Linked DNA regions of Homo sapiens. The protein of the gene in region 1 interacts with the protein of each later gene in a pairwise test. Each region holds a gene or a part of one and is shown in the gene's direction. Other genes may lie near its edges.

Region 1 (3,749 bases):
GCCATTGTACTCTGTCTCAAAAAAAAAAAAAAAAAAATCACTAGATCAATAAATTTGAAAAGGAGACTTTATTTCTCTTTTATAAAGGGTTACAACCTGCAGGCTGGCCATCCCACTGGCTAGGAAGCAGAGCCTCCAGCCAAAGCCTTAACAGGCACTTTGAGGGAGGGAGGAGTGAGATAGGAATTTTAGTTGAATGGATTGGTCAACAGGTTACTGGAGGAGCTATGAATATTTACGGAGGGGGTCCTGACATATGCATATCGAACAAACATGCATGTTATATACCATCCATGTTCACCTTGGGGTGGAGACTTAATATTTAAATATATCGCAGTTAGGCCCCATACGTCAAAAAGACAAAAGCACTCAAGTGCGCAGCCTCTGTAAGCTGGCTAGAACCAGTCCATGGCCGATGGTCTTATCAGGAGAAAGTTACTGAGATCAGTCTCTTGTCCCACCAAAGCTATAATTATGGCTTGTGGAACAGGGGCGTAGGGGTCAGCATCTGGCAGTGGGTGAGCTGCAAATTTTTTTCTATTATTTATATTACCACATTATACAAATTGTTTTAATATTGGTTATCTCAAGTCCTGTACTTGTTTAGCTGCTACAGAAAAAGAAAATCCTCGCGGCAGTTAGAGCATAGTCTCTTCTTTAAGTGCAGAGGTGCAAGACTTAACCCTTGCCTGGCATGGCCTTAGATCCTATTTATAATTAGGTATCTTATTGACACAAACAATGCATTCTGTCAGTCTTGTGATCTCTGCTTTGACGTTAATGCTGGTCATTTGTTGTGTCTAAGCTGCAAAAGGGCGTGGGCATAACATGGCATGTTTGACGTCCCTTCCCATCATAGCTGGAAACCCTGTTTTTAAGGTTCCCTGGGGTCCCCTTGGCCAAAAGGGGGTCCATTTAGTTGGTTGGGGGGTGTAGGATTTTATTTTTAGTTTACAGTTGTTAGCCCTGATGTGGACCATTTCCATCCTATCTAGGTTTACCAAGATTCAAAACACGAAGCTGACCATGAAGCGGGACGGCATTGGGTCAGTGCGGTACCAGGTCTTGGAGGTGTCTCGGCAACCACTCTTCACCAATATCACAGTGGACATTGGGCGGCCTCCGTCGTGGCCCCCTCGGGGCTGACACTAATGGACAGAGGCTCTCGGTGCCGAAGATTGCCTGCCAGAGGACTGACCACAGCCTGGCTGGCAGCTGCTCTGTGGAGGACCTCCAGGACTGAGACTGGGCTCTGTTTTCCAAGGGTCTTCACTAGGCCCCCTAGCTACACCTGGAAGTTTCAGAACCCACTTTGGGGGGCCTCCTGCCTGGGCAGGCTCTTCAAGTGTGGCCCTCTTTGGAGTCAACCCTCCTTCCCGACCCCCTCCCCCTAGCCCAGCCCCAGTCACTGTCAGGGTCGGGCCAGCCCCTGCACTGCCTCGCAGAGTGGCCTGGGCTAGGTCACTCCACCTCTCTGTGCCTCAGTTTCCCCCCCTTGAGTCCCCTAGGGCCTGGAAGGGTGGGAGGTATGTCTAGGGGGCAGTGTCTCTTCCAGGGGGAATTCTCAGCTCTTGGGAACCCCCTTGCTCCCAGGGGAGGGGAAACCTTTTTCATTCAACATTGTAGGGGGCAAGCTTTGGTGCGCCCCCTGCTGAGGAGCAGCCCCAGGAGGGGACCAGAGGGGATGCTGTGTCGCTGCCTGGGATCTTGGGGTTGGCCTTTGCATGGGAGGCAGGTGGGGCTTGGATCAGTAAGTCTGGTTCCCGCCTCCCTGTCTGAGAGAGGAGGCAGGAGCCCCAGGGCCGGCTTGTGTTTGTACATTGCACAGAAACTTGTGTGGGTGCTTTAGTAAAAAACGTGAATGGAGCAGCTCCCTTGTCTGTTTGGGGGTGGGGGTCGGGTCCCTGAACGTGGTTACCCTGAGTGTGTTGTGGTGGAAGGGCACTTGGGGAACCTGGCCCAACAAGTAAACCTGACCCGGGCCATCCTGGTTCTCCAAGCGCTGCCACTCCCTAGGCTTTCACTGGCCTTAAGGGGAAGTTTGTCCTTGCACTGCTTCCGGGACAGTGGAGGCGACGAAGTAATAAACCCGTGGACCCAGATTTCTCAGGTCTTAACACGTTCCCTGAGGCCTAAAGGTGCCCAGGGCCGAGCCCAAAGTGCTTGGGTCAGGGCTCGGTGGAGCGCCGAGGTGAGTCTGAACTCCCAGCCGGCACGCGCCGCCCGCCGGACCAAACACGGGAGGGGGCGGGGCCCTAGAGTCGCGGCGTGGTTTCCCGGGTGATGGCCACGCGGAAGAGGTGGGGCTAGGGCCCTGGTTCCCACTGCCTGGTTTCTGGGCCCCCGGCATCCGAGTCGGCCAAAAGCCGGGCAGAAGAGAGCGCCAAGGACTGGCAGTTCCGGAACGGGCAATCCCAGCCGAGGGGACCAGCGGCAGAGCACGGGTGGGGCTTGGGAGAGGGCGGGGCCCATAGAGGGGCGGGGTTTGGTGAGCGTTGCCGGCGGGCCCGCGGTACCTCCCGCACTCTGACCTGCGGCCCGTAGGTCCGAGCCGGGGACGGCGGCGTCGGTGGGTCATGCTCCGGCACTCCCCCTCGCTGTGGGAGCTGGTGGAGGAGCACGTTCCGCTCCGGGAGCGACGCGAAGTGAAGAGGATTCTGGGGGAGGCGGCGGTGGACCTGAGCCTGGAGCTGCGGGCGGAGGTGGGGAGAGGGAAGGTGGGCCACGCCCCTGGCCTGCCCCACGACTCGGGTGATTTCCCACCTCTGCGGGTCCCTGGCCCTGCCGGGTAACTCCCGAGATCCTATCCTGGTCTCCCCTTTGACTCCGCCCTCTCCCTCACTCCCCCAGCCCCCACCATTCCGGACACTCCCCTCCCCAGTCGCAAGGTATCCCAGCTCTCCTTGCAGGTGGCGATGTTACGGGCACTGCTCCAAGAGGCTCGATCCTCTCAAGCCCCCAGCTCCCGCCCCATCTCTGACCCCTCTTCTCTTCTGGCACCACCGCCTCTCCTAAAGGACCTCTTGCGCCAGGAGCTCCGGCAGTTGCTCCAGGGTCTCCGCCACAAAGCCATCTGTGAGGGCAGGTGGGAGCCTCAGGCCTGGGCCCTTTCCCTAGATACCAGGTGGGCTAGCGCTGCCCCTAACAAGGAGCCAGGGTTGCCTTTTCTGTGGTTTCCAGAAAGGAGCCTCTCAGCTTCCTTCCTGTGCACCTTCTGCAGGGACCAGGCCCAAGCTTGGGTCCAGTATAGCCCCAGGGTCCTGCACTTTGCCTTGGAGGAGCCCAGGTGTGATTTGCCAGAACAGGAGATATTCCAGATGAGAGGTGGTGGGCCCAGGTAAGGTGATGGTAGGAGAGAGGGATCTGTCCCTGCTTGGCAGAGGGCCCTAGCCCACTGGTGGGTTGCACCTGGCTCCATGCAGGAGATTCCAGTCACGGGCTGGGCACTTCCACCGCCACTTGTGATAGAGATTATCAGCCCATGAGGGCTACTGAAACCCAGAGGAAACACCTGCCTAGCCTGGGGACAGGCAAAGCTTCCTGGAGAAAGTGGTTTGATCTGCGTGTTGTAGTATGAGGAGCAGTTTTCAGGGAGATGAAAGAGAAGAGCTTTGTAGGAAGAGGGAAGAAAGGAAGCCATGTCCAGCAGGCGGTTGTTCCTCTGGCCTAGAGAACAGGAGTGAGGGCTGGGCTAGGGAGGCAGGGAGAGCTGAAGAGGATGGTCACAAATGGTATTTACAGCTGGGACT
Region 2 (3,749 bases), on another chromosome or scaffold:
GGAGACATATTTTTCTTACCAACCACATAGGATTGTAATAGCATAAAATTAGAAACTGAAATGAGGACACTTTTGAAAGGTTGAAAATGTCATACAAATGGGAGGTATTATAATTATTCTAAGAATAAGGTAAACTCTGATGGCTCTAGTTCTTGCAGTGTTTCTTAGCACACCTATGATTTTTAATAACAGTTGCAGATACTTACTAGAAGTTGAAATACTAAAGGTTACAACTTCAGTGCTTCCGTGGAAAAATAATTCCCATATTAGCAAACCCATTTAAACTGGTGTGCTTTGAAATGGTTATTAATCTCTTCTTTAAGGAATCTGGATCCCAGAGTCTCCCAGGCTCCCCAATCTTTCTTCCCTGACATGACAGCAATAAAGCAGGGCTGAGGGAGGATGTTGATGTTCCCATTGGGGTAGAGGAGTGTGATAAAGACGCATTGTTCAGAAACAGAGACAAACTTCGGAGATTCGTCTGCAAGTTAATTAGGTCGTTGCGAATAAATAAGATGCTTTCAATACAGAGAGAAAGGATGAGGCGGGGCAACAAGCACAAGCATTTTGAGACCCACAGGATTGGGAAATGATGCAGGAACAACTGACCTGGCCATTTTTCTTTCTTTCTTTCTTTTCTTGGAAGCACATATGTTTATTGGTTTTTTAATCTGTGAACCAATAGGTCATTTATAAATGGATGTGCAAATCTGAAATCAAAATATCTGCAGTCAATTCAATTAGATAATTTTTGAAATCTATTTATTTTTAATATACTTTAAGTTCTAGGGTACATGTGCACAACGTGCAGATTTGTTACCTATGTATAGATATGCCATGTTGGTGTGCTGCACACATTAACTCGTCATTTACATTAAGTATATCTCCTAATGCTATCCCTCCCCCCTCCCCCCACCCCACGACAGGCCCCGGTGTGTGGTGTTCCCCACCCTGTGTCCAAGTGTTCTCATTGTTCAATTCCCACCTATGAGTGAGAACATGCGGTGTTTGGTTTTCTGTCCTTGCGATAGTTTGCTCAGAATGACGGTTTCCAGCTTCATCCGTGTCCCTACAAAGGACATGAACTCATCCTTTTTTATGGCTGCATAGTATTCCATGGTATATATGTGCCACATTTTCTTAATCCAGTCTATCATTGATGGACATTTGCATTGGTTCCAAGTCTTTGGTATTCTGAATAGTGCCACAATAAACATACATGTGCATGTGTCTTTATAGCAGCATGATTTATAATCCTTTGGGTATATACCCAGTAATGGGATGGCTGATGACCTGGCCATTTTTCTATTTACATAGTGCTTGCCCGCCACTGAGGTGCTTCTGTGACACCTGAGAGAGATAGAAATACGTTCCTCGTTGCTATGTCCTCCAGAGGACTCTGGAATGACCAATTATTACTAATATTTTAAGTGTTTTTTTAGGAGATTTTCTGCAGCACTCTGAGTGTCTCTTCCCAAACACTTCGGTTACTGTTTATTCACCTGCTGAGATCTGGTCTCTTATTCACTCTCATTGCCTTAAGAAATGGTACAGAAATGTATTCATTAACATTTCAGATTTGTATATGCGGTAGCGAGAAATAATTCCCTTTCTTGTGTGTCGTGATTTGCCTTTCTTGTCAGCCTAAGCTCAGGAAGGTGTCTGTGAGAACTTCGCTCAGCCCAAGATCCCTTTCCCTTCCCGTCACATCTGTTAGCGCACAAGATTTCTTCGTCTGTCTCCAAAGGTTTCTGAAGCCCCACCCTTTGCCCACGCACGGTGCCAAGGAGACTGTGCCCTGCCTTGACAACAGTTGCTAAGGGGCGGAGACTTCGGCTCGGTTCCCGAGACGGAATACCCAGGAGTCGAGTACTTGGGCGCATGCGGCAACCGTATCTCAGTTCTCGCGAGGTTTCGTCTTCCCGGAAGCGTTGGAGGACATTCCCTGTTGACTGCGTCGCGATGTGTGGCGACTGTGTGGAGAAGGAATATCCCAACCGGGTGAGCGACTGGGCGCTCCCTTGGCCCGCGGGCGGCCCCCGAGGTGTCTCATATCCAAGGCTGGCCTTCCCAGAGAGGCCGTACGTGGGGCGGACTCGGCCGCACTGCCGGTCCCGGTGACCCAGTAGCGGTATTTAGGCACACCAGGGATGGCCTGTGGCGGTCTGCACCTCTGGTACCCGCCCTGGCGGCTGACCTCAGTTGTAGTGGCCGTTCTCTTGAGCTCCAAGGAGCAACAGAGGAACCCCACCACCACCACAACCCCCGTCGACAACCGAGGGACTCCCCCACCCCCACTTCCGGTCTCATCCTCAAGCTCGATTTGATGAAGTACAATTTTCTTACCGAATTCTAGCGCTGGAGGGGACCTCTGTGGTCATCTGTTCTAACACTTTTGCAGATGAAGAAACCGATGCCCAGAGAGGGGAAATCACTTGCCCAAGTTCACATTCTAGTTGCATGGATGAGAGCCAGGACTAGAATTTAGGTTTCCTGCCTGTTACCGCCTTCTGAATCTCAGTTACTTTCAGGTTCAGGAGTTTGCAAAGCTTGTCTATTCTCATTCATTCAAGGCATCCTTGTTGAACATTTATATATGTGTAGTTAGATTACTTTGCTAGGCCAGAAAGGGATTATTTCTCCTCTCTTTGAGACAGGGTGCTGCTGTTGCCCAGGCTGGTCTCAAATTCCTGGGATCAAGTGATCCTCCCGCCTTGGCCTCCGAAAGTGCTGGGATTACTGGCATGAGCCACCACGTCCAGCTGGATTATTTGTTTCAGAGAAGAAATTAAAAGGCACCTTTGGTGCTGCCTAACAGCTTACAGTTTTGGGGAGTATGTGACTAACAAAAAATGAGTAGCTCAGTTCAGAAATGCTATTCAAGTTTAGGGAAAGGGGAGGGCAATAGGGGATAGTGCTGTTCTCCCCTGAGAAAAGGTGGACATCATCTAAGACTTGAAGGACAGTTGTAATTAGGGTAGAAAAGAAGGTGAGGAGCTGGAGGATGGGGGAAAATTACAGAAATGGAATTTGTGCATTGGTTGGGAAGGAGGGAGAAAGTCTCTGTAGTTCCTTATGTCTTAGTATCTTATGGGTAATACTTAGGCTTTTGAGTAGCATGTATAACAGTATGAATTCTCCTGTAGTACAACTACTTTGAAAAAGCGGGTGAGCCTTATAAAATACAGACATGACCCAGTGATTCCCATTCTAGAAAAATGCATGTGTATATGCTTCTGAAGACTTTTATAAATAAGTGTTCATAACAGCATTATTTTTGTAGTAGATTGGAAAAGTAACTGATACATTCATTAGAATGGAACACCATTAATGAATGAGGAATGGAAGTGAATGAATTAGAGCAGTAGTTCTCTACCAGGAGTGATTTTTGGCTCTTAGGAGACATTTGGCAATATCCAGAGACATTTTTTGGGTGTCAAAAGGGGAAGTACTACTGACTGCTAATGGGTGATGCAAGGGATGCCGCTAAACATCCAGCAATACATGGGACAGCCACCACAACAAAGTATCACTCCCAATGTCAATAGTGTGGAGGTAGAGAAACCCTGAATTATAGCCGTGAAACCAAACTAGAATTACACAGCAGCCTGAAAAGTCTTACAAATAGTGTTGATGAAAGAACACATAAAGTATAATTCAAAAAGAGGCAAACCAAAATATATTATTCAAGGATGTACCTGGGTGGTAAAACTGTAAGGAACGTATACAATTACTGTTAAGTCGAGATA

The links. The genes of interacting proteins can lie anywhere in the genome.
Region 2: the proteins of CCDC24 (region 1) and CHURC1-FNTB interact in binary tests that used the Homo sapiens proteins (3 or more experiments, as listed by UniProt).

What each region holds. Positions count from the first base shown.
Region 1 is NC_000001.11:43,989,303-43,993,051, forward strand, and holds the start of CCDC24 (coiled-coil domain-containing protein 24), read left to right. Parts: upstream 1-2,296; 5' UTR 2,297-2,444; intron 2,445-2,523; exon of another isoform or gene 2,524-2,544; 5' UTR 2,545-2,576; coding exon 2,577-2,702; intron 2,703-2,909; coding exon 2,910-3,085; coding exon of another isoform or gene 3,086-3,124; intron 3,125-3,220; coding exon 3,221-3,337; intron 3,338-3,749. Other genes in the region: B4GALT2 (beta-1,4-galactosyltransferase 2), read left to right, coding at 996-1,146.
Region 2 is NC_000014.9:64,912,534-64,916,282, forward strand, and holds the start of CHURC1-FNTB (CHURC1-FNTB protein), read left to right. Parts: upstream 1-1,827; 5' UTR 1,828-1,881; coding exon 1,882-2,001; intron 2,002-3,749. Other genes in the region: CHURC1 (protein Churchill), read left to right, coding at 1,963-2,001. UniProt on the Homo sapiens protein: Essential subunit of the farnesyltransferase complex. Catalyzes the transfer of a farnesyl moiety from farnesyl diphosphate to a cysteine at the fourth position from the C-terminus of several proteins having the C-terminal sequence Cys-aliphatic-aliphatic-X.